7 linked regions of the Homo sapiens genome follow. The protein of the gene in region 6 binds, or shares a complex with, the protein of the main gene of each other region. Each region holds a gene or a part of one and is shown on either strand. Other genes may lie near its edges.

Region 1 (3,707 bases), on a different chromosome or scaffold from region 6:
ACTCTACCCCTCTCCATTAACCGAAGGGGAAGAAGCCAGGCCAGGAAACACAGGTACGAGTTTCCGGTTACCCAGAGGGGAGGCACAGATGAGAGGAAACAGGCAGGACAATCAGACCCAACAGATCTCCCAGCCTCTGCCCAGGGTCCACAAATTCAGAGAAGCTACAGGAGGGGCCACAGCTCTTGCCTGGGTCACAGCGCAGTCTCCTCATGACCACAGGAGGCCTGGTGGGGTTCAGGCCACCTGGACCGCACCACCTCCCCCAGCAATGAGCTCCATTCCAGGCAGTGACTGAAGCACCAGGAGAGACTGTCAAGACAGGGAGGAAAAAACAGCACCATTCAAGACTGTCTCCAGCCCAGGACAGGATCTGAAGCTGCAGCTGGCCAGCACCTGCACTCGGACAGCGTGACAGCGAGGTCCCCAAGGGTGACTACAGGCAAATGGAGTCTGTGGTTTAACCAGAACAAGAAGGTACTCACAACTCCACGCGGTGACCTCACACCAGCCAAACCACCCTGTTGCTACTCTGGACCTTACATTTCCCATTTTTTTCCCCAAAAACTCCCATTTTGCCTTCTGGAGCCAAGGCCCAACTATTTGGCGGTCACATCAGGAGAGGTGATGACATCAGTGCACATCCATGGACACTGGATCCACTATTCTTCTCCCGTTAACAGGACCTTGATGTCTCCTGGGAACATCCCCTCTATTGTGGGACTGTTTGGGTGGAACCCACAGCAGATTCAGGGGTAAGCCAATCAACTAATTCAATCAAACTGCTAATCCAATCAAAGCTCAGAGAAGGCATAAGGAAACGTTTGGTGGGGCTTCCAGCAAAGAGTCGGGAGTTCGGTGAGGGAAAATCCTGAAACTGCTGGGATGGAGAGGAAGACACCCTACTGTGTGAAGGCAACACTGCAAAAGAGGGAGACAGAAAAACCAGGTCCTCACCTGACCGCAGACTTGCCTTTGGGCCTGCATGACCATCAGCCCCTTTGTGTCTAAGCTCCTGCCACCAGCACAGTGCTAACCTCCCTTTAGGGCTGGACAGGCCACAGAATTAGTATAGGAAGTAAAGACAAGTGCTGTGCAGGCAACCAATTAACACGGAAGGAAACAATGTGAACCAATGACCACCCAAAAGGATAAAACTGTTCTTATTTTATATCCCTTCACATCAGTATCACGGGTCTCCCACTGACAGCACTGAAAAGCCAGCTTGCTGACTGCTTGCCTAGGCACCATGCAAGATGCACCTGGGAGGTGAATGGAGTTGGGCAGCATCTATAAAGGGTTCTGGAGGGCTGGCCTGCAGAACAGGAGAGCCGTTAGCTACCATGGTAACTACTACATCACCCTGGGGGGAACGAGGATGTGGCCACCTCTCCATGCCTAACTCAAGCTGGGCCAGGAACCTGATGACTAGAACGGGGGACATCAAAACAAGTCATCAAGGGGATAAGAACTTAAACCCAGTGTGTGCAGGGGGCTGCCCAGAGAGCCAATGTGACCAGGAGTGTGGGTGGGAAACAGAAGAGTGCACTACCGTGCTGAAGGCACAAGCAGGCAGTGGGGCTGCCAGGGCCTGGGAGTGCTGCCAGCCCACTGGGCTCTCGGTGTGGGCCATGGGTCACACCCACCTGAGTCCTCCCAGTAACTCACCCACTGCTGATGCCTGCACCACAGAACCCCCACCAGAGTCAAGGCCAGCCACAGCCAACGCCCTATAAAACCATGCTGTGCACCCAGCACACGAATACCCGAGTCTCCACAGCAGCCACGAGGCTGACCCACCACCAGGGTGTGGCCTGGACAAAGCAGCACCCTACTTTCTCACCATAGCAAATGAAAATCTGGGGGGATGTGTGTCCAGGAATGCCATGTTTTGTCACATGACCAAAAAAGGCCGAAGGATCGCTGGGGACCCAGGCTTCACAGATGAAGTGACATTTGAACAGTGTCTAGGGACCATGGACAGGCAGAAATCTAAGATCAAGCGCCGCCTTCTCTATTAGGGTGAAAAATACCTGACGAGAAAGAGAGGAAAACACACCTCACACCCCTTCTTCAGCCAGTTCCAGAGAAAGCACAGAGCATTTTAGTGACCACTGTCCTCCCAGTCTGGCATAAGAGCAGTGCACAGATGAATCCAGCATAAACAGCTGGACCCAGGCAAGAAAGGGGAGTGCCTGCGCAGCAAGTGCCCACTGGCCTCTCACATGACAAGGGAGGCAGCCAGCAGGTGGCTGTGTTCCAACCCCAGCCTCATCCCATCTAGCCTCCTTCCAGCTGTGTCCGCTGAGCCTCAGTTTCCTCACTAGTACCTGCCTCCTGTTTAATCTACACCTGCTATGAAGATTAAATGTGTTTTGAATGCAGGTGAAGTGCTGAAAACCGCTGGCACCTAGGACCTGCTCAGTAACGCTGACAGCCATTCCCAAAACTGGCCCTGTTTACAGTGAGAGCACCAAGCATTTGGGCACCCACGTGCTGTGGCAGTTCTAGACACTAAGGGAGCAACACCTGCTCTCCTACTTGGGCACTTCACAATCACATGGAAAATGTAACCAACAAGACCTGTTATCAGCAGGAATATAAGGTGTTAAAATGATGAATGGTTCCTGAGGGAGACGGTCTTGGATTAAGCCAGGTAAGGTTTCAGAAAAGGGAGGCAGTAGGGATGACAGGAGGCTCCCAACTGGAGGCAGCACAAAGGTCAAATTCCAGGTGTCACACACATACAGGTAAGGCCTGCTCTCAGAGTTACACTGATGCTGTTTTGATGACAAGACAGAACTTCATTTCGAAGCATGACTGGATTAGGAGTAGGTTCTGTCCTCGAATTTTCTTTAAAACAGTTACTCAAAGCACACCTGTTGTTATGTGAAGCTTCCAGAAGGTTTCTGATGATAAAAATGAACCCTCATACTCAAAAAGGTTTGGAGCCACTAGGCTAGAGGAATTTAAAGGGGGAAAAGTTGTAGGAACTGGGAAGGAATGGAATTCAAAATGTAACATGTGAAAACACTTCATGTTTGCAAGGGTACACCTTGGAAGACGCAATGGAGTTCAGCTTCCATGCTGGGCACCACCGATGTGGGAAGCGGAAGACTGTCGTAGTTAAGCCCTCTGACATCAGAACCACCCAGTGATGGATTCAGACCCAAGGCTTCTGGTTCCCTTGTCTGCAATACCAGACAAATCGGTGAATCTCTCCTAGCCCCTAAAATGAAGATGAAGCACCTACCCTAGAAGTAATTCAAAGAAGCAATGAGACACTCCACACAGTAGTGTCTGGCACTGTGTAAGTGCTCAGTAAACAGCGGCTGTTCGTCTTGCAGCCTCTGCTGCCCAACAGAGACTGCTGCTGGCACACAGGAGACCGAGCCTAACTCTGCATGCAGGGGAAACCTGATGAGCCCCCTGACGTTTTCCAAGATTCATTTTCCTGCAGTGGATGAACCCAGGAAACTTTGCTGCAGTCACAGTAACATCCAAAGGCCTTTAACCCCAATTGCCTGGCAATCCTTGGGATGTGAGTTCCCAGAGGGCTGCTGGTACTTCACCTGACATGACCCCTCTCCTTTTGAATAGGCTCCACAGAGAATCGCAGAACCTCCCGGTACTTGGATGGTCACAGAATCCAAAGGCCTATACACAGAATCCAAGGGCCTGGGTATGTCCACATAGCCATCTCACAG
Region 2 (3,707 bases), about 90 Mb from region 6:
ATGAATCAACTTCATTTGAATCATTTAAGTTCAGATTTATACTAAGTTACTTCTAAGTAGAGTAGCCCCTATGTTTATGTCAAAAATATGGATTTTTATTTTCTTCCCTTTTTTTCTCCTCAGCCTTATTCACAGCATTGCAACCAGGGTGATAAAACTTGCTCATGCAAAGTCCAGTGTGGCCTTGGCTCCAGCCCTAGTGGAAACTTACAGTCGTTTATTGGTCTATATGGAAATAGAGTCTTTGGGCATCAAAGGATTTATCAGTAAGACAGGACTTTCTGGTGTTTATAACTATTAACCCATTCATTAACTCTAAAGTTACTTTTCTAGGTCCTGGGGACACAGCAGAGAACAAGTCACCACCATGATGGAGCTTATGGAGGAGGACATTAAATAAATGAAATATACAATATGTCAGATGATACATGTTATAGAGAAAAATAAAGCAAAAAGGAATAGGAAGTGTGAGGGTTGGGGGGTTTGTTGCATTTTTAAGTAAAGTGGTAAGAAAAGGTTAATGTGCTAGGTGCCTGGGATGCAGTGAGCAGGATAGACCTGGTCCCTGTCCTCATGCAAATGGATTCTGCCTGAGGCAGCAATGCTGTCCTCCAGTGCATACGAAGTCTGACTGGAAATAAAGAAGGAATTTTCCTACCTTGCAGAAGATACATTATAATGTCTCATTTATTATATAGTTCTAAAATAATAGATACTTTCTGATATAGAAGTGTTTTTCTGATTCATGGTAATTCCAGCTTTTCACGAATACAGCATAGTCTTAATTTTAACCACAATAACTCTTCTTAGATAACTGATTGTTGAACAAAACTTTCTTGGGGGTAGGAGGAAACAAGGGCAGGTATAATACAATTTTTTGTATTAAAAAGTGAACCTCATACTTCAAAAGGTATGGAACATTAATTGTCTAAAAATAAAAGATATCAGAATTGAGAAGATTAATGTTTTTTCATATCTTGTCTCATTTTATTTTTCCAGATAAACATGATTATCAATTGCCAAATCCCAGGAAAAAAGCAAACTTGATATTATAGTTAGGATCTGAATTTTTCCTTACTGTTAAAGTAGAAAATAAGAAAATATGGAGAATATATATGTGTGTGGGCGTGTGTATTTTCACAATCAAATCTTTATATTTTACTCAATGTGACTTTCTTCAAATATCTTTTCATGCATAGCCTTTAATAATTGGTACCTTAAATTGTCTTTTTCCTCCAGGTCAGCTTTTGCCAACTGTTTTCAAATCACATGCATGGGGGATCTTACACACACTCCTTGAGATGTTTAGCTACCGGATGCATCATATTCAGCCTCATTACAGAGTTCAGCTCCTGAGTCATCTTCATACTTTGGCTGCAGTTGCACAAACAAACCAGAACCAGCTCCATCTTTGGTGAGCTCATTGAAGACCATCTTTCCTTAAGATTTATTAGAAACTTTCTTGGAGATGAGGTTCTTAATCCTTTACCTTTACCTTATAGTTTTTTTTTTTATTATTATTCATCTGTCATAAAACTTCTCTGCTTCTAAAGTATTTTGTTTCCAGTATAGGAGCAGAGTCCAGCTTTTTAAATAGAAACTGATTAAGATAGTTGAGTCCTTCCTTCAGGATCTTTGGACTGAGAATTAGTACTTCCAGGGTATTTATTATTATGTTGTAACTTAGCCCTTTAGAATGCTGGTTTTAAGTATACTTCAGATTATGGTTAAAGTATCATGTCACATTGATTTTGCTTTACATTAAAATATATTTTAGATAGAAAAATATAATTTTTGAAATGCAGTATCTCCAGGTGAAATTTTTTAGTCCTATAGGCGACAAGCCATCTTTTTCAAATGTGTAAAAAGTCACGATTTTCACTATAAAATTGGACACATTAGGTTTTTTAAACAAATTAAGCAACATTTATTCTCACACAAAAGTGTTTTTTTAAAGAAGGGATAGTCATAGATTGCATGTTTTTCCATTGTAATTAACCTTAGATTTAATTCCATAATTCTGAAATTTTTTTACATTTCTTTTTATTCTCCCAATTTTCAGTGTCGAGAGCACTGCTCTCAGGCTTATAACAGCATTAGGTAGCTCAGAGGTACAACCGCAGTTTACACGCTTCCTTAGTGATCCCAAAACAGTGCTCTCAGCAGAATCTGAAGAACTGAACCGAGCCTTGATATTGACCTTGGCTAGAGCAACTCATGTAACAGGTACGGTGAATATGTGACTACAAACAACAACAGATGAATTAAAGTGTGCCATGATTCTACTAATTACTATAGTTGTAACATACTAAAAAGATACTTTTCATTTGTTTGAAAAAAGCCTGTTGTTTTGATATCTTCACTATTTCACTCATTTATGGAAGCTCTTTTGTGTACCATCATTCTATTAATAACTGCGTTGAGCATCGTTTTCAGCTATCCATAATTTTAAAGTAGTAATACTTTAAGCTTTTTGGTCTCAGGACTGCTTTACACTCTTAAAAACAAAATTGAAATTCCCAAAGAGTTTCTGTTTATATGGATTATATCTATGGATATTTATTATATTAGATATTAAAATTAAGAAGTTTAAAAATATTTATTAATTTGTTTTTAAATAGCAATAATAAACATTACATGTTAATATATGATGTTATAAAAAAAGTATATTTTCTAAAGCAAAACTTTAGTGAGAAGAGGTGCCATTGTTTGACATTTTTGCTTCTCTAATATCTGGTGTAAAGGAAGACATAGTTTGGATTCTCATCTGCTTAGACATTTAATCCATTGAAGTTTTAGTTGAAGTAAGTGAAAAATGTGGCCTCACACAGATGAGGTTGGAAAGAGAGGAGTATTTTAATAGCTTTTTCAGATAATTGGGAATGTTCTTTGACATCACATGGAAAAATGATAGTTGCTTAAAGGTTAGCTGCAATATGGAATCCAAAACCCCCAGTAAACTTCATGTACTTTGTTACATTATAATCTGTACATCTGTTTTATACATTTAGTGGATTTTTAAATCCATGCATGTTTTGTAACTTCATGAATTATTCATTTTGAAAATACTGGTTCACTGAGTTACGTAGATCTAGCAAACGTTGACATTTTGTTTATACAGTATCAGAAAATTACATTTGTTAATATCACTGCAAAGTTTATTAGAAAAATCTAAGTTTTGGAATGCTATCATGTCGTGGTAGATACAGGTTTTCCAAAATTTCAATTTTTACTTGAAAGGTCAAATTTTATCATTGGAAAAAGTTACTATCATTTGTTTTCCTTAAAGTGACAAGCTCATTTTGTTAATTTTCAAGAAAATGTCTGCTAAATACGTAAGTCTAGCTAGCTATAGTTTTCTGTCAGACGTTCTTTCAAGTAAAATTGGAATTCAAAAAAAAAAAAGCAGCTGATTTAACTCAGTGCTCAGTCAGTCACACAAGTGCACAAGTGTTTTTCCTCAAGACACCCATCAAACTTGGAACACTAGGCATATGCTTCCCCTTTTGTTACATATGATGTTAAAAATAGGTGTCGAGATTGACACTGGCACTTTTCTTTCACTGAGTGCATGTGCTGGAGAATACAAAGCCTTTTCATCTAGTCTGGCACCACTGTTTGATTTGTGCTTAGGACCAGCAGTTTTACCACCATTGCTTTTGTACCGTCAGTGCTCATACCAAGTGAAAAAGCCTGATATCTTTTTA
Region 3 (2,609 bases), on a different chromosome or scaffold from region 6:
ACCCCGTCTCTACTAAAAATACAAAAATTAGCCAGGCGTTGTGGCAGGCGCCTGTAGTCCCAGAGACTCAGGAGGCTGAGACAGGAAAATTGCTTAAACCCAGGAGGCGGAGGTTGCAGTAAGCTGAGATCGTGCGACTGCACTCCAGCCTGGGCAACAGAGGGAGACTCCAACTCAAACAAACAAACAAACAAACAAACAAAAAACAAAACAAAAAAAGGGCACAGAGGGACCTCAGATACAGAGATCCCAATGGAATGAGAGAGAAAAACTAACATGTGGTGAGCACACAGGGCCAGGGGCCGATCTTGGTACTTCCTAAGCTGCTTACTCCTCACAACACCCCATTTACAGATGAGGAGACCCAGACGGGGGCTGGCTCAGTCGCTAGCTAAAGGTCACAGCACTTGTAGCTGGCAAACCTAGCATCTTTCTTCTGATCAAGTGTATAGTTGGTCCCCTAGTTCCTAAAAGGCTTCAGAGAAAAGTTCAGGCTCAGGAGAAATCTCTGGAAACAGGAAAAATGCCACAGAAGGAACCCTTGGCAGTAAGCCTGGCAGGGAGGAGGGGACAGTGAAAAGGATGACCTCCAGGGAAGTGGTTGGTGGGGGGTGTGCTCTTTAGGCAGGAAGGTGGGGAGTAGCCCCATGCCCCAGCCCGGGCCTCTCCGGGCATGTTTTGGGGGAAGGAAGGAAGGAAGGTCAGAGCTGGTGAGTCAATGGCACAGGCTGTGCCTGAGGCAGTGAACTCACTCACTTGGGTAGCTTGTCATCCCCTCAACCCTGGGGTAAGGGAGGGGCAGGAGGGCTGTGGGGGAACAACTGTGGGCTGGGCTGGACCTGGGCAGAGGAGCTTCAACCCTCAGGGAGTGAGAACAGCAACCTCTTCTCCAGGGGCAGGACACAGAGCACCCCCTTGGGGGCTAGAACAGCAGGTCCCTGCCACACCCTCTCTGACCAGCTGCAAAGATGCCTGCAGCTGGGGCAGCGGCAGAGTGGCAGCATCGGGGAGTGAATTCCCAGGAAAAGGAGCGGCGCGCGGCCAGCCCACACACTCACTGGGGCTCGAAAGGATGTTGGCATCGTCCTCATTAGAGCTCAGCAGTCGCATCAACTTCGAAGGCTGCACATCGTCCAGGGGGAAGAGGCTGATATAATCCTAGAGGGAGTGAAAGTCACTGTTATACACCCCTAAACCCCCCAGTTTCCAGCTGTCAGGGAAAAGAGCTTGAGCTCCGATTTGAGCGAGGTCAGCATGGCTAGCAGGGCCTCAGCCCCTCTCTGCTCAACCCCTCCCACAATCTGACAGGCCCCTTGTGCCCATGGGCAAGCTGGGGCCACACAAATCACCCATGCAGATTCCTGACCAATCATGCCCAGGCACAGCTGCCCCAAGGGCAGGGGCCACAACTGCTTCCCTTTGCCTGGGGAATCCTTAGGAAATGCTGTAACAAACCGGTGAACAAGTGAAGCCGGCGAGGGCAGCTGGGGGGCCTACCTCAATGTCTTCGCGGTGTCTCTTCTTCTGGCGGGTGGACGCCTGTCCCTTGTGGGAGGAGTAGGAACTGAGGGCACACCACACGGCCAGCCTGGCAAAGGGTTCCAGAAAAAGGGGGACAGTGAGAGGTGCCCCAGGAGCTTTCTGTGTCTGACTGGGCTCCCCAAAGCCCAGTCTCCCAGGGTGGCACCAGGCGAGGGGTGCTTGACCCTGGGTGGCCGGAGCAGGGCAAGCTCTGAAGAGAATCTTACTTGGCAAGAGCAGTGCCCGGGGGGTCCATGAGGCTGTGCCACTTGGAGGAGTCAGTGAGCAGGCCAGGTAGGATGTGGCCCAGCAGGACCAGGGTCACTTGCTGCATGTCCAGGCAGAAGATGGAGTAGAGCAGCTCCACTGCCCGCAGCGTGTGCTCCTTCCGCGTCTCCTTCAGCAGCTCCTAGTGCGCAGGAAAGGGGGCAGTTCAGGAGCCAGGGGCCCGGGATCTGGGGCTCCTACACCCTGCCACCCCAGCATGGCTGTCCAGTAAGGCCCGCAGAGGGGGCCCCAGATGTTGCTCCGCCCCTCAGGCTGAATCCCAGTCTCTGGCCAGAGCTCCCCAAGGAGGCAACTCTGAGGCGAGGCATTCCGGGGAGGCCACCTGGCTCACGGCAGCCTCTCAGGGAAGCCTGGCAGACCAGGCCAGGTGTGGGGAGCCAGGGGACAGGACCCATGTCGGCCCACAGCCACTCCAGCCCAAGTACCTTAATCAGGTTGTTGCAGAACCAGTAGACGCCGCCCATGTGCAGCAGGGTGTCAAAGATGTGGATGGAGCGGCTGTCCACCCAGCCCTTCTCCAGCACCTTGGCAAAAATGTCCGTCAGCACCTCTTTGATGGGCCGCTTGGGGGGCAGCAGGTTCCAGTAGGGCATTGTGTCCACCCCGGTGGAGGGAAACTTGATCTGCGTGGCTGTCTGCTGCAGCACGTCGGCACACATGCGCTCCAGGATCGAGTTCATGATCACCACCCTGGGGGAGGGCCGAGAGAACCTGAGGCTCAGGTGCCACTGTAGGGTGGGGAGGGAGAGGAGGGAACACCCATGCCAGACTTTCCCTTGGACTTAGGTTACGGAAATCTC
Region 4 (2,981 bases), about 58 Mb from region 6:
TATATGCTGAAATATTTATGGATAAAATTATATGATATCTAGGATTTGCTTCAAAATAAGATGGGGGATGGCAACTTACGGAAAGTGGGTGGGAGTTTAGATGAAATGAAATTGGCCATAAATTGATAACTACTGAAGCTAGATGATAGGTACATGGAGGTTCCTTACTTTACTCCTGTATATGTTGTTTTAAATCTTCCACAATAAGAGACTGAAAACAAAACTATGAGGCATGGTATTAATTTTAAAAATAAACACTTAAAGACTATAGGTCTTACCTAAGCCCAACATTAATTCCTTCAGACCTGAGGAGAGCTTTTTTTCTTATTAAGCCCAGGAAACCTATATATGTCATCAGTCTGACTTTACACAGTCTCGCTTTCCAGCTCATTTGATACGCTCCATCAGAAATAAATTTTCTATTTAAAATCTGTTTGTAATGATTTGAAATTACCCCCTTGACAACCTATAAAAGGCTTTAACACTTAACTAAAGGAAGAAGAATTCTCAAAAAACAACATCAGGCAAATTCAAAAAGATAAATTCAAGACACTAGTCGATACAGCTGGAGAAGTTACTTTTATTCTTGCAGTTTTATACTAGGAAGTCAACATTTAATAAGCCATCATCCACAATTGATTAAAAATGTTTAATCCTTAAATTGTGCATCAATATCCTATGACTCCAAATTTTATTTATCACTCTCCTTCAAGTCTGAAGAAAATGATTAATTTGCTAAGTTCCACAGACAGTACAGTCCCACTGACATAACATTTAGTATGATGTCCTACTCTCATATTAGAATTAAGGACAGCCAGTATCAAACTGGCCTGAAACCTGATTGTGTTCCTGGTTCAGAATACCTGTAGTAAATCTGTAAATCCACACCAAGACACAACATTAAACTAGGGTGTGTATATCTTATAAAAACCTTTTCACAGTAAAAATCAACATTAAAATTTTACCAAATTCCAACATTATGGTTTTTGAATCCAATTAAGCTTTCAAAATGCCTGATTAGCTGTGAATTAATTATAAATAACTTCATGTAGTTTGCCCAGCATTTCAAAATGGTTATGGACTATCATGTTTAAAATGTCAAAGTATGCTATACATATTGCACTTTTCTGCTAGGCTGGGCTAGTATCTTCCATGGCAAGATCCTCAAACTACTGAATAAAATACACTTTTAAATCAATATAGGTACTTGATTAATTTCCCTGAAATTATCAACATCATTACCAAAATCTTCCAGGATTTTGTAAGATTTGATTCCTTAAATACAGTTTTAAAGTTAAACTTATGGAGGGAAAAAAACCCTCATAGATTGACTGTAAATTTTACGTCCTTTTTTGGTCCCTCAATGACCAAAGAGAATTTTAAACAAATTATGCTTCATGTTTCCTGGCTTAATAAAAAGCTACAATTTTTATTATCCAAATTAAGAAATATTATACTAATCAAAAGCTATTAATTTTGAAATGTCTATGTATGTCTGTCTGTAGGTCCCCTTAGAACCTTTCCAAACATTTATAATCAAGAGATTTTAATCAATTATGTACTAGAATCATATTAAAGAAAAACTTATTTTGCAAAAATAAAATCACTTTCCAATATGCTTGACAGAAACAAGCTATTCATTTTCATTTGTGTTCCACTGAAGACATTACTGAAATCTGTCCAATGGTTTATTTCCAAGTGGTCCACTATGGAATTCTTCGGAATGTTTTAAGATTGGCTGTAGCTAGAGTTCTGACTTCCATTTGGACCCTGCTCTCCTTCACTGTTCAAATGGGGAAGAAAGAGATTTTATACCAATTAAAAGATCCATTTTTACACCCTGATAAGCCTACTGACTTTTAAATTCATTATTCTGTGGCACAACTATACAAAACAAAGACATTCCTCATTATAAGACACGTGAAAAATTAAAATCCAGAAGACTAACAAACATTGGTTTTATGTTTTTATTCTTATATAACTTTGTGCCCTCACATATAACAAGCATTCTGGAAGTTAGTGTCCATATATACTCAAAAACTTTAAATTAGGGTATGGGATTTCATTGTTATTACAGGTATCACTCAACATAGAGATTACAGCTTCTTCTAAACAAATTTCCTATAAAATTAAATCTTACATATAAAATCCTATTCCTACTATTTATGAAAAACAAGAAGTGTTCTTCAAAAAAAAAAAAAAACCAAAACTGTTGTCCAAAGGCATAATAAAATCATATATAAATACAGCAAACCTTTATAAGTCAGCAAGAAATATGGTAATTTCCTGGAAAATGCTGAATACTTAAAATAAAAATGCTGAATACTTAAAAATAACTAAAACTGAAAATACCAGTAACTTTGGCAATAGGATTATTGCCTTATCTTGTCCACCATCATCTTGCAGCTTCAGGCCCTGCCACTAGTGGAGAATCACTCAGGGAATTTCTGCAAAAAATGCATCCAAAGGTAGCTGTTTGAATGACTGCCTTAAACAGCTCCTTGAATAAAGTATTAACTTTTTCCAAATTGTAACATTAACTTATGAGTAGCAATCCATAAATCTATCTTGTTATATAACAATCATTTTTCTAAAGAAACAATTAAGATGGATGGCATTTCTTTATTTCCCTTCTGACTTTTTCTCCCTGCCCCAAATGAACTGATACACAGTGAGGGCTGAGAACCACTGAACTAAATGAACACATCTTACTTAAAACACACACATACACCCCAATAACAACAAAAAAAACCCTCTTAGCACAGGTGATTCATTTTTAGCAAAAATATATTCTTATGTGCCATGGACCTTAGGGTCACTTAAAAACCAAAATTCTTTATCTTTACAATATCAGATCATTCATTGAAATTTTTGAAAATTGCTACTGAAATTTATAAAACAGGACAATAGCCAGCAGTGAAAAAAAAAAAAAAAAAAGATGGCACAGAATCAAACTGACATGAAACTACTATAGTTCTGAA
Region 5 (2,420 bases), on a different chromosome or scaffold from region 6:
ATTTTACAGAAATTACACTACCAAGGTATTGTATAACGTTGTGAGAAAGTTATTTTCCTTTTCAATTTTTTTGGAATTTTCTTATTTAGCACTACAAAGTCTTTAGGCCTCTTCTAATGCTCATCTCCAGCAGGCCTGGGGCTTAGAGCCTTTAATCAGCGACAGTGTCTATCTAGAATGTAATAATACTGTTTTAGTTATGTATTTATTTATTTTTGTAGAGTTGGGGTCTTACTATGTTGCCCAGGGTGGTCTTGAACTCCTGGCCTTGGTCTCCCAAAGTGTTGGGATTACAGGCACAAGCCACCATGCCCAGCCAATAACACTATTTTGTTGTTATATATTTTAACAATTGCCTTCTATTTCCAACAAATCAAAGTCTTCCATTTATAGAAGAAATATAAAGTCTCCCCCGCTTTTTTTGAGACGGAGTCTAGCTCTGTCTTCAGGCTGGAGTGCAGTGGTGCGATCTCAGCTCACTGCAACCTCCACCTCCTGGGTTCAAGCGATTCTCCTGCCTCAGCCTCCTGAGTAACTGGGACTACAGGCGTGTGCCACCACGCCCAGCTAATTGTTGTATTTTTAGTAGAGACAGGGTTTCACCATGTTGGCCAGGATGGTCTCGATCTCTTGACCTCGTGATCCGCCTGCCTCAGCCTCCCAAAGTGCTGAGATTACAGGCATGGAGCCACTGCACCTGGCTAAAGTTTCCTTTTTATCAGGAAAAGTTTTCCTCTTCTGTATGTAAGTAGAAGAGAGTGAATTGCTTCATAGAATCTTCATCCTCTTGGCAACATCTGACATAATTGTTACAGTAGATTATACCCACTATGAAATCTATTCTTCCCTTGGCCTCTGAGACACAACTTTCTTGTCTTCACTTAACTTGCTGACCATTCCGTTTAAGTCTTCTTTGCTTGGTCTCTCTCATCTTCCCCAAACACTGGAGGACTAGGACTCAATCCTGGTCCTCTTCTGTATCAATACTCTTTTCCTGCCTAGGTGACTTTATTTGGTCCCATGGCTTTAAATATCATTTAGGCCCTGAGGACTCCCACGTTTTTATCTCTGAACTACAGATGAAAACATCCAACTTCCTACTCAGTTTCCTCACTTGGATGCCTAACAGACATCTTTATCTTAACATGTTCAATATCAAACTGTTGATTTTTTCCTCCAAAATCTTATTCACCCTACAGTCTTCAACATCACAGTAAATGGCAACTCTCTGTTTTTAGTTGGTTACCCAGGCCAAAAACCAGAAAATCATCTTTGACTCACACCCTCTTTCTTTCTCTCATACCCTCCATTGAATCCGTATTTTTGAAATAAATGCAGAATGCAATCACTTCTCACTCATCTGGTCACTTCAACCTAGTCCCTTCAAATGAAGTCACCCTCATTTCTTGCCTGGTCTTTGCAATCGCCTCTTTCTACCTTTGCCTTCTTCCTCTCTTCTCCATATGAAAGCCAAATGGTCTATTAAATTATTGGGCAGATAATAACACTCCTCTACTCAGGACACTACAGTGGCTTCCTGTGTCATTCAGAATAAAAGCCAACATCTTTACCGTTGTCAACAAGGCCCTACATATTATGGTCTCTGCTACCTGCCAAACATCATCTCCTTCTATTCCTCCCCTTGATCATTCTCTCCAGGAGTGACCTTCCTGCCACACCCCTTCTCCTATTCTCTGTGCTTAGGATGTTCTTCCCATCTGCATGTCTACTCTATCACTTTTGTCAGGTCTCTGCTCAAGTGACTTTATCATCAAGGCCTTTTCTGATCACCCTAATAAAATAGTATGTGTCCTACCAATCTCTAGCCACTTTCCTGCTTTATTTTTATGGCATAGTTTTGTTTTTTTTTTTTAGGTAGGGTCTCACTCTGTCTCCAGGCTATAGAGCAGTGGCGTGATTATAACTCTTTGCAGCCTCCATCCCCTGGGCTCAAGTGATCCTCCCGCCTCAGCCTCCCAAGTGGTTCAGACTACAGGTGCGCACCACCATGCCCAGCTAATTTTTTTTTTTAGTAGAGATGAGTTCTTGCTATGTTGTCCAGACTAATCCTGAATTCCCGAACTCAAGCAGTACTGCAGCCTTAGCCTCCCAAACAACTGGAATTACAGGCATAAGCCTGTAACAGCTGGCTTGACATACATTTTTTTAGTCATCTTTCTGCCTCCATGGCTATGGCTCAAATGTTAGGAACATATTCAGATACTTGTTTACAAAATCTGGCTGGGCGCGGTGGCTCACGCCTGTAATCCCAGCTCTCTGGGAGGCTGAGGCAGGTGGATCACCTGAGGTCAGGAGTTCAAGACCAGCCCGGCCAACATGGAAAAACCCTGTCTCTATTAAAAATACAAAAATTAGCTGGCCATGGTGGTGCACACCTGTAATCCCGCTACTCAGGAGGC
Region 6 (3,350 bases):
GCTGAAGCAGGTGGATCACCTGAGGTCAGGAGTTCGAGACCAGCCTGACCAACATGGAGAAAGCCCATCTCTACTAAAAGTACAAAATTAACTGCACATGCCTGTAATCCCAGCTACTCGGGAGGCTGAGGCAGGAGAATCGCTTGAACCCAGGAAGCGGAGGTTGTGGTGAGCCAAGATTGTACCATTGCACTCTAGCCTGGGCAACAAGAGCAAAACTCCATCTCAAAAGTAATAATAATAATAAAAAAACAAAATAAAAGCCAAGTGTAGTTAGGGATTTTATACTGCTTTTTAGCTTTTAGGGAACAGAGTCCCTCCTTATGATGCATAAGTCTAGAGAGTCTATATTTACCACGATCAACTTCTGGAGATTTTCAGGAAATGCATTGTGTTCAAAATGCTGCCTATGCATTGTTTCATTCCATAAAAGCTGCAGCCTACAGAAAAATACAAATAAATAAACCTGGACGAGAGCAAATGTAAATCAGGAGGCCAAAAAGGTAAGATCTGTGCGTTTTATTTTTGTAAACTATATCTAAAACATACCTCAATATAAAAAACCAGAAACAAAATAACAAAAACGGGGTGAGAACAAAAAATACAGATGACAGGTTCTGTAGTTATGGTACTGAACTGAGCTTCCTGTCAGCCAAAACTAGAAGGGAAACATGACCACCACCTGACTTGTTGCAGAGGCTTTAGATCTGAGCACTTGGATCTGAAAACAGTTTCTCTTTAGATGCCTTCAAATAAGGGACAGTATCCTTGATGACAATACAGTACATACATTCACAATTCTCCAAGACCATCTCTGTGTATATCAAGGTTAACCTGGATGAATATTTCTGCAGCAGGCATGGGGTAGGCAGGCAATATGACCAAATATGTAGTTTGGAGGCTCAAATGAAACAGGAGAAAGAGCTCAGGAACCATGAAGCATGGTGCAGGTATCAGGGTCAAGTATTCTAACCCTAAGATCAGGGTGCATGAGAACTGGAGAGGCCTCAATACTGAGACTTAGACGAAAGGTGTGGAATTAACTTCCTAGTGTGACTAATCCAACTTAGCTCAAAGCGGCTCTGAGATCAGCCCTTCTCTCAAGTCAACTCATAAACAAATGCTTTAGTTACAGGAGGTATTAACTGCAAAATAACAGCCAAAAGCATTCCTGGGCACGTCCATTGAGCTCCATGTAACAGAAGCCATTAACTGCATCTCAGCAACCAAATTGTCTTTCATCTTGTAGTCACAGAATCCCTGAGTTTTAACTCAGCACATGACTGCCCAGATAAGAGGTTCTATGTCCCAGCATCTCTTTCAGCAAAGTGTGGCCACAGTGATCTGAGCAATGCTCAGTCATATCTTTTTTTTAAAATCTGCTCTTTTCTCTCTCTCTTTCCCCAGTGGAATGCAGATATGGAGCTGATGAGTCTGCTTTGATCTTATGGGTAAGAAAACATACTGGGAATGGCTGAATAAGACAGAAGGAAACAAAGTTCCTGATAACCTTGTAGAGTTAAATCTGCCCTAGACCATCTGATTACCTCTCTATTATTAGGTGAGAAAAAAACAAACTTCGATCTTATAGCAGTTTGGCCTGTGGCTTAACATATTTCACAACAGAAGGGAAAGATGTCAGAAGGAGATTTCAAAGGACTCAGGCAACACCCTAGGAAAGTCAATTCGCAAATCACTTCAGCAAACAGGTCAGAAAATAGTAACTATCAAACCAGTTGTGCCTTCTACTCCATCTCTAGGATAGAAGCCCAGCCACATCCTCTGAGGGAAGGAAGAGGCTCTTATTACAGCACAATCCAAACATAAAATGCAGCATGTTCACCATTGGCCTGGGACAAATCCTTAATAGTTGGGGATACGGACTATTTCCCCCACCAGTACCAGGCAGGGACATTCCTGTCCTACCTTTCCCCTAAAGGAGGCAAGGTCCAAACTTCTCCACTCTTCATAATTACCATTCTTGAGGACAGGCCAAATCCAGTAAGGCACGGAGTAAAACAGCTGATGGGGGGCTATGTGTGAGAGTCAGGGGGTTGGGGAGGGGACTCAGCCCCAGAACAAAAGCCACAGCTGAGAACCAGAGAAGGAGAGTAGAGTCCATGTCTACCCTGGGTTTCTGGGGTCCAGGGACCTGAAAGTCAGCACCTGCTCCTCCTGTGGAGTACCCCTGGTGACAGAGCTCAGCTGGCAGCTGCTCATCACTAACGAATCCCAGCCACCGGCACCTGCTGCTGCTTGCGGATCTTGTTGAAGAGTTCCATGTACTGGACCATGGTATCTGCTGGGCCGTAGACCGCATCATGTCTGTTCCCAAACACTGCGGGAGCCCCTGGTGTGTGGCTGCCTAGAAAACTCTGTAGGAACTCGAGCAGCAGACTCCAGCAGTCACTAGCTACCACACAGGGGCCATACTCCACCTGGGAACCAAAAGCACAGAGAATGAGGGTGAATGAAGGCTAAGACAAGGTCTGCTTCTCTTGTACCTCCTGCCTCCTGCTCCCATCTTCCCCAACCCCGAGCTAAAGACACACACCTCCTAGCACAGTATTGGTCCACAGGAAACATTCAACCTAAACACTGGGCTCAATACCCAGCATCTTTAGGCATCTTTGACCTTCTCATCCTGGAGCTGTGCCAACCCGCAGCCCTCCCAGAGGACCCAGAAGCAGATCTGGGCCCCTTTTGATGATCTCAGGACTGTGTTGTCCCTGCTATGCTGGGTAAAGATTCAAGGAGAGCTCAAGAAAATTCTAAGAGACACAACAAAGAGAAAGAGAAGGAAAATGTGTGTGGGGGTGGTAAGTAGAGAGTAGAGTGGACACATATGCTCATGAGTTTTTTTCAAGACCAAATTTTACTCCCTAAGTAGAACCAACCTGGGTTCTGACCCTAAGAAAGAATTTCCCAAATAGTGTGTCATGGGCCAAAAAATATACATCTTAGGTTTTCTCCTTCTGCTCTCTTAATTTTTTACTGGAGAGATGGCAGGGCAAAATTACTGGCAACCCTAAGGAGAAATAAGTAAAGAAACAGGTGGAGTGTGTTTCTACTACAAGATTAGAAATGTGGAGGATAAACAGCGGGTCCTCAGTGGGTCTCAGCAAATCCAAGGTCTATCACAAGCCGAAAGGGTTAGAAGTCTTGGTCCTAGAGGTTGCTGAGCAGAAACTACCACTAATGCCCTTTTCTCCAACTGGGATTCTTCCTAGACTTATCTATCCCCATGTCTCTACATTTTAAATCCCTACATAAATGTTGATCCTCAGGAAGCATCACAACCAAAGTCAGCAGTGTTCACACTGGCCTGAATTCCCAGAGCCAACTGCCTC
Region 7 (4,294 bases), on a different chromosome or scaffold from region 6:
ATATTTTAAGAAGGTGTGGTAAATAGACTAAGGGAGGACAAAAAATCAAAGAAGTCCAGGTGAGAGATAATGGTGGCATGGCATAGGACCATAGCAGTGGGAACGGTGGTCAGTCATATTTGGAACTTTATTTACTTATTTTTAAATAGATCTAATGCAAAAGGCTGGTATGGTAGTTTCGGTGGGGTATGTGAGAAAGGAGAAAAAGGTGATTCCTTCGATTGAACATTTGCAATTGAGTAAAGTGCAACTGGGGAAAGATGTCTGTCACCACTGGATATGAGGGTCTGAAGTGCAGAGGAAACGGTGTTCCAGGGCCTGCATGTAATCATCCAGCTGATATCTGACTGAGAAGTGGTTGGAGAACTGAGTCCTGGGGCAATCCATTAATCAAATGTGCCAAATGCTGCTGACAGATGGAGTAAAATGAGGACTGGGAACGACCATTGGAAGTCACTGGTGCAGGATACATTGGGGTCAGCGGTGAGGAGAAAAGCTGGATTGGGTTATGCTCAACGTAGATGGATTTCTTCAGGAAATAAATTGATACGTGCGAGGGATTTAAAATGGGGGAGTCCGGAAGTGGTGGTTCACGCCTACAATCCCAGCACTTTGGGTGGCCGAGGCGGGCGGATCACTTCATATCAAGAGCTCGAGATGAGCCTCGCCAACACGGTGAAACCCTGTCTCTACCAAAAATACAAAAAAAAGAAAAAAAAATAGGTGAAACCCCAACTATTCGGGAGGCTGAGGCACGAGAATCGCTTGAATCCCGGAGACTGAAGTTGCAGCGAGCCGAAATCGCGCCACTGCAGTCCAGCCTGGGCGAAAGAGAAAGACTCCGTCTCAAAGAAAAAAACAACAAAAAAACCCTGCATGTCTATATTTTCGAATTTGTATGTAAGACGTCTTAATTGTATGCGTTAAATTAAAAAAGGACAAAAGGAATGGAACTACCAGCAGCGACTAAGTCAGTAAAAGAGTGGTAATGGGGAAGGGGGTGGAATATACGCAGGCGCAATAGCAAGCGTTTCTTTTGGAGGTTATTTTCGTGTCATAAATTTCTAAATTCACGTTAAGTCTTACAAGAGCATGTTAAACATTAAAACATAAGATTGTTTCTGGTCAATAAGGGGTCTATAAAAAATAAAGCAATAAGGTGTCTTGTTCAATTTTATGCCTTAATTCAAAAAGAAACGAAGAAACGGAACCCTCAGCTACGACTTTTAAAAGTCAGTAACGGGTGGATGGGAGGAGTCAAACATACGTAGGCGCAACAGCGAGGGATCGGTCTGAGGCGGAGCTAGAATTTCGTTAAAGGACAGCTCTTACAGCCAATCAAGGACAGAGTCGGTGGCTTCTTCCCGGAGGAGACCGGAAGTTGGTTTCGGCTGCAGAGGGGAAGGCGGCTACCAGTGTAAAGCCAGAGCTGAGGTAAGTGGGCGGCAACGGTTTGGGGCCGCCGCCTGTGTGCGTTTTTTTCTTCCGGACCCCGCAGCTTCCTCTGTGCTGGGCTGGGAACTGGGGAGGCATGGCTGAGTTCGGCCTCCAAAGGCGGTCTTTCGTCTTTCTCTCCCGAGTCTCTCCGAGAGTGCGGTCTCTCCGAGAGCGCGGAGGCCTCGGGGTGGACAGCCTGGAGGAGGGGGCTCTAAGCGTGGCAGTCTCGGGGCTTCCTCCGTGTTGGGACGCCGAGCCGGAGTGGAGGTTGGGAGACCTGGCGTCTAGTCCCCGCGCCGCTGTTTTTCTAAGCTGTGTGGCCTTGGGCGAGTCATTTGCCCTCTCCGGCTCTTTGTAACATGAGAGTAGCCCTCCCTGCCCTTCCTTCTTCTGGGAGCAGTTATGAAACAGCTGAGGTATGGGGGCAGGCGAGGGCGGTAGATCCCAAGCCTAATCGTCAGGTCCATCTGGAGAGGTTTTAAAAGCGACATTCTAGGGCCCATTCACAGTAGACAGAATGAATCAAATCTCTGGGGCTGGGACCCTGGAATGTCTGTCGTCTTCTGGTGAAGCTCCTTCTCCCCCAGTAGAACAAACACTAGATGTTGGATCTTGAGTTAAGAACCAGCTCTGATGCTTGGCTCTGCTTTTATTAAAAATAAGACCTCCATCACCTTTGAAAAGTTCCATCTAGAGAGACAGTAGAGAAAGAAATATAATTTTTGTGATATGCCAGTCCTTATTGTACAGTTAGATGCTTCTCGGCTTAGGGATATAAGAGAGCTTGCCCTTTGGAGCTAAAGGGACCTGGGATAAGAATTCCTGTTGTGCCATTTATTAACCTTTTGATCTGGGGCAACACTTCCCCTCATTGAGACTTCGGATCCTCACTTCTAAAATGAAATTGATAATAGAACTTAATTCGTGGGACCGTGTGGTGGCTCACGCCTGTAATCCCAGCACTTTGGGAGGCCGAGGTGGGCGGATCACTTGAGGTCAGGAGTTCCAGACCAGCCTGGCCAACATGGTGAAAACCTGTCTTTACCGAGAAATACAAAAATTAGCTGGGCGTGGTGGTGCGCACCTGTAGTCCCCAGCTACTCAGGAGGCTCAGGCAGGAGAATCCCTTGAACCCGGGAGGCAGAGGTTGCAGTGAGCCCTGATGGTACCACTGCACTCCAGCCTGGGAGACAGATTGAGCCCTTGTCTCAAAAAACAAAACTAACAACAAAAACCCCAAAAACCTTAATTCATAGAATTGTTAATGAAGATTATGTTACAGAGGCCATAAAAAATGGTACCTGTCATGTAGTTGGCCTTAGGAAAATGGCAGCCGCAATACAGGAATGCACATCGTGTAGGAAAGTACAGAGCAGCACTCCTCACCTAAAAAGGTTTGAGTGGGATGAAACGTGAGCTGTCAAAAATTGTATTTTCTGCCGGGCACGGTGGCTCACGCCTGTAATCCCAGAACTTTGGGAGGTCGAGGCAGGTGGAACACGAGGTCAGGAGATCGAGACCATCCTGGCTAACACGATGAAATCTCGTCTCTACTGAAAATAGAAAACATTAGCCGGGCGTCGTGGCGGGCGCCTGTAGTCCTAGCTACTCAGGCGGCTGAGGCAGGAGAATGGCGTGAACCCGGGAGTCCGAGCTTGCAGTGAGCCGAGATCGTGCCACTGCACTCCAACCTGGGTGACAGAGCGAGACACTGTCTCAGGGAAAAAAAAAATGTATTTTGAAGTACCAGATCACTGTTAATTCTTTGATTTTGGTAATTGTGCTTTGGGTAGAAGAAAACATTCTTGTCACGAGAAAACACACTGAAGTATTCAGGGGTAAAGGAATGAAAAACCAATAAAGCAAATGAAGGAAAATGTTAACATTTGGAGAATCTGAGTGAAGAATATGAAGTGTTTTTTGTGTATTCATGCACTTTTTCTGTAATCTGAATTTATGTTAAAAGTTTTAAAATGTCTGGGTGTGGTGGCTCACGCCTGTAATCCCAGCACTTTGGGAGGCCAAGGCAGGAGGATTGCTTGAGCTCAGGAGTTTGAAACAAGCCTGAGTAACATGGCAAAACTCTGTCTCTACAAAATATACAAAAATTAGCCGGGCTTGGTGACATGCCTGTAGTCCCAGCTGCTTGGGAGGTTGAGGTGGGAGGATCGCTTGAGCCTAGGAGGGCGAGGCTGCATCATCCTATGCACCACTGTGGCATAGTGGAAACTCAGGGCTGCGCCACAGCTGCCCTCAGTACCTCACGAATTCTAAGTATAATATTGCTTCTAGTAGGATACTTGCCCCACCCGATGTTAGAGTGTGTTATATCTTGAAACTCTGATAACACCAATCTAAAGGAGCACTTAAGGATCTTCTCATTGGATGGTATACCTAGGCTTAAGGTAGAATAAGTAGAGGTTATTATGGCCATAGATACTGGGTTTGAACCTGGGGTTTGACATTTCTGTGATAGTTGTAGAGAAGTTAATGTGTCCATACAGGCCAGGCGTGGTGGCTCACGCCTGTAATCCCAGCACTTTGGGAGGCCAAGGTGGGCGGATCACCTGAGATGGGGAGTAAAGAGACCAACCTGGCCAACATGGCAAAATCCCGTCTCTACTAAAAATACAAAAATTAGCCAGACATGGTGCACGCCTGTAATCCCATCTACTTAGGAGGCTGAGGCAGGAGAATTGCTTGAGCCCAGGAGGCGGAGGTTGCAGTGAGCTGAGATCTGAGATTGCACCACTGCACTCTAGCCTGGACATCAGAGCAAGACTCCATCTCAAAAAACAAACAAAAGTTAATGTGTCCATATAAAATTGCATAGTATACTGTGACAAAAAGGGTATGG

The links.
Region 1: MED20 (region 6) and MED26 share a complex: the UniProt entries of both Homo sapiens proteins name them as parts of the mediator complex.
Region 2: MED20 (region 6) and MED23 share a complex: the UniProt entries of both Homo sapiens proteins name them as parts of the mediator complex.
Region 3: MED20 (region 6) and MED24 share a complex: the UniProt entries of both Homo sapiens proteins name them as parts of the mediator complex.
Region 4: MED20 (region 6) and CCNC share a complex: the UniProt entries of both Homo sapiens proteins name them as parts of the mediator complex.
Region 5: MED20 (region 6) and MED18 share a complex: the UniProt entries of both Homo sapiens proteins name them as parts of the mediator complex.
Region 7: MED20 (region 6) and MED7 share a complex: the UniProt entries of both Homo sapiens proteins name them as parts of the mediator complex.

The regions. Positions count from the first base shown.
Region 1 is NC_000019.10:16,618,031-16,621,737, forward strand, and holds part of MED26 (mediator of RNA polymerase II transcription subunit 26), read right to left. Parts: intron 1-3,707. UniProt on the Homo sapiens protein: Component of the Mediator complex, a coactivator involved in the regulated transcription of nearly all RNA polymerase II-dependent genes.
Region 2 is NC_000006.12:131,600,737-131,604,443, reverse strand, and holds part of MED23 (mediator of RNA polymerase II transcription subunit 23), read left to right. Parts: intron 1-123; coding exon 124-266; intron 267-1,239; coding exon 1,240-1,414; intron 1,415-2,062; coding exon 2,063-2,226; intron 2,227-3,707. UniProt on the Homo sapiens protein: Required for transcriptional activation subsequent to the assembly of the pre-initiation complex. Component of the Mediator complex, a coactivator involved in the regulated transcription of nearly all RNA polymerase II-dependent genes.
Region 3 is NC_000017.11:40,020,897-40,023,505, forward strand, and holds part of MED24 (mediator of RNA polymerase II transcription subunit 24), read right to left. Parts: intron 2,500-2,609; coding exon 2,235-2,499; intron 1,931-2,234; coding exon 1,749-1,930; intron 1,589-1,748; coding exon 1,498-1,588; intron 1,159-1,497; coding exon 1,059-1,158; intron 1-1,058. UniProt on the Homo sapiens protein: Component of the Mediator complex, a coactivator involved in the regulated transcription of nearly all RNA polymerase II-dependent genes.
Region 4 is NC_000006.12:99,541,827-99,544,807, forward strand, and holds the end of CCNC (cyclin-C), read right to left. Parts: intron 2,448-2,981; coding exon of another isoform or gene 2,396-2,447; exon of another isoform or gene 1,954-2,395; intron 1,784-1,953; coding exon 1,729-1,783; 3' UTR 561-1,728; downstream 1-560. UniProt on the Homo sapiens protein: Component of the Mediator complex, a coactivator involved in regulated gene transcription of nearly all RNA polymerase II-dependent genes.
Region 5 is NC_000001.11:28,331,862-28,334,281, reverse strand, and holds part of MED18 (mediator of RNA polymerase II transcription subunit 18), read right to left. Parts: intron 1-2,420. UniProt on the Homo sapiens protein: Component of the Mediator complex, a coactivator involved in the regulated transcription of nearly all RNA polymerase II-dependent genes.
Region 6 is NC_000006.12:41,904,850-41,908,199, forward strand, and holds the end of MED20 (mediator of RNA polymerase II transcription subunit 20), read right to left. Parts: intron 2,439-3,350; coding exon 2,223-2,438; 3' UTR 505-2,222; downstream 1-504. UniProt on the Homo sapiens protein: Component of the Mediator complex, a coactivator involved in the regulated transcription of nearly all RNA polymerase II-dependent genes.
Region 7 is NC_000005.10:157,139,960-157,144,253, reverse strand, and holds the start of MED7 (mediator of RNA polymerase II transcription subunit 7), read left to right. Parts: upstream 1-1,388; 5' UTR 1,389-1,434; intron 1,435-1,478; exon of another isoform or gene 1,479-1,853; intron 1,854-4,294. UniProt on the Homo sapiens protein: Component of the Mediator complex, a coactivator involved in the regulated transcription of nearly all RNA polymerase II-dependent genes.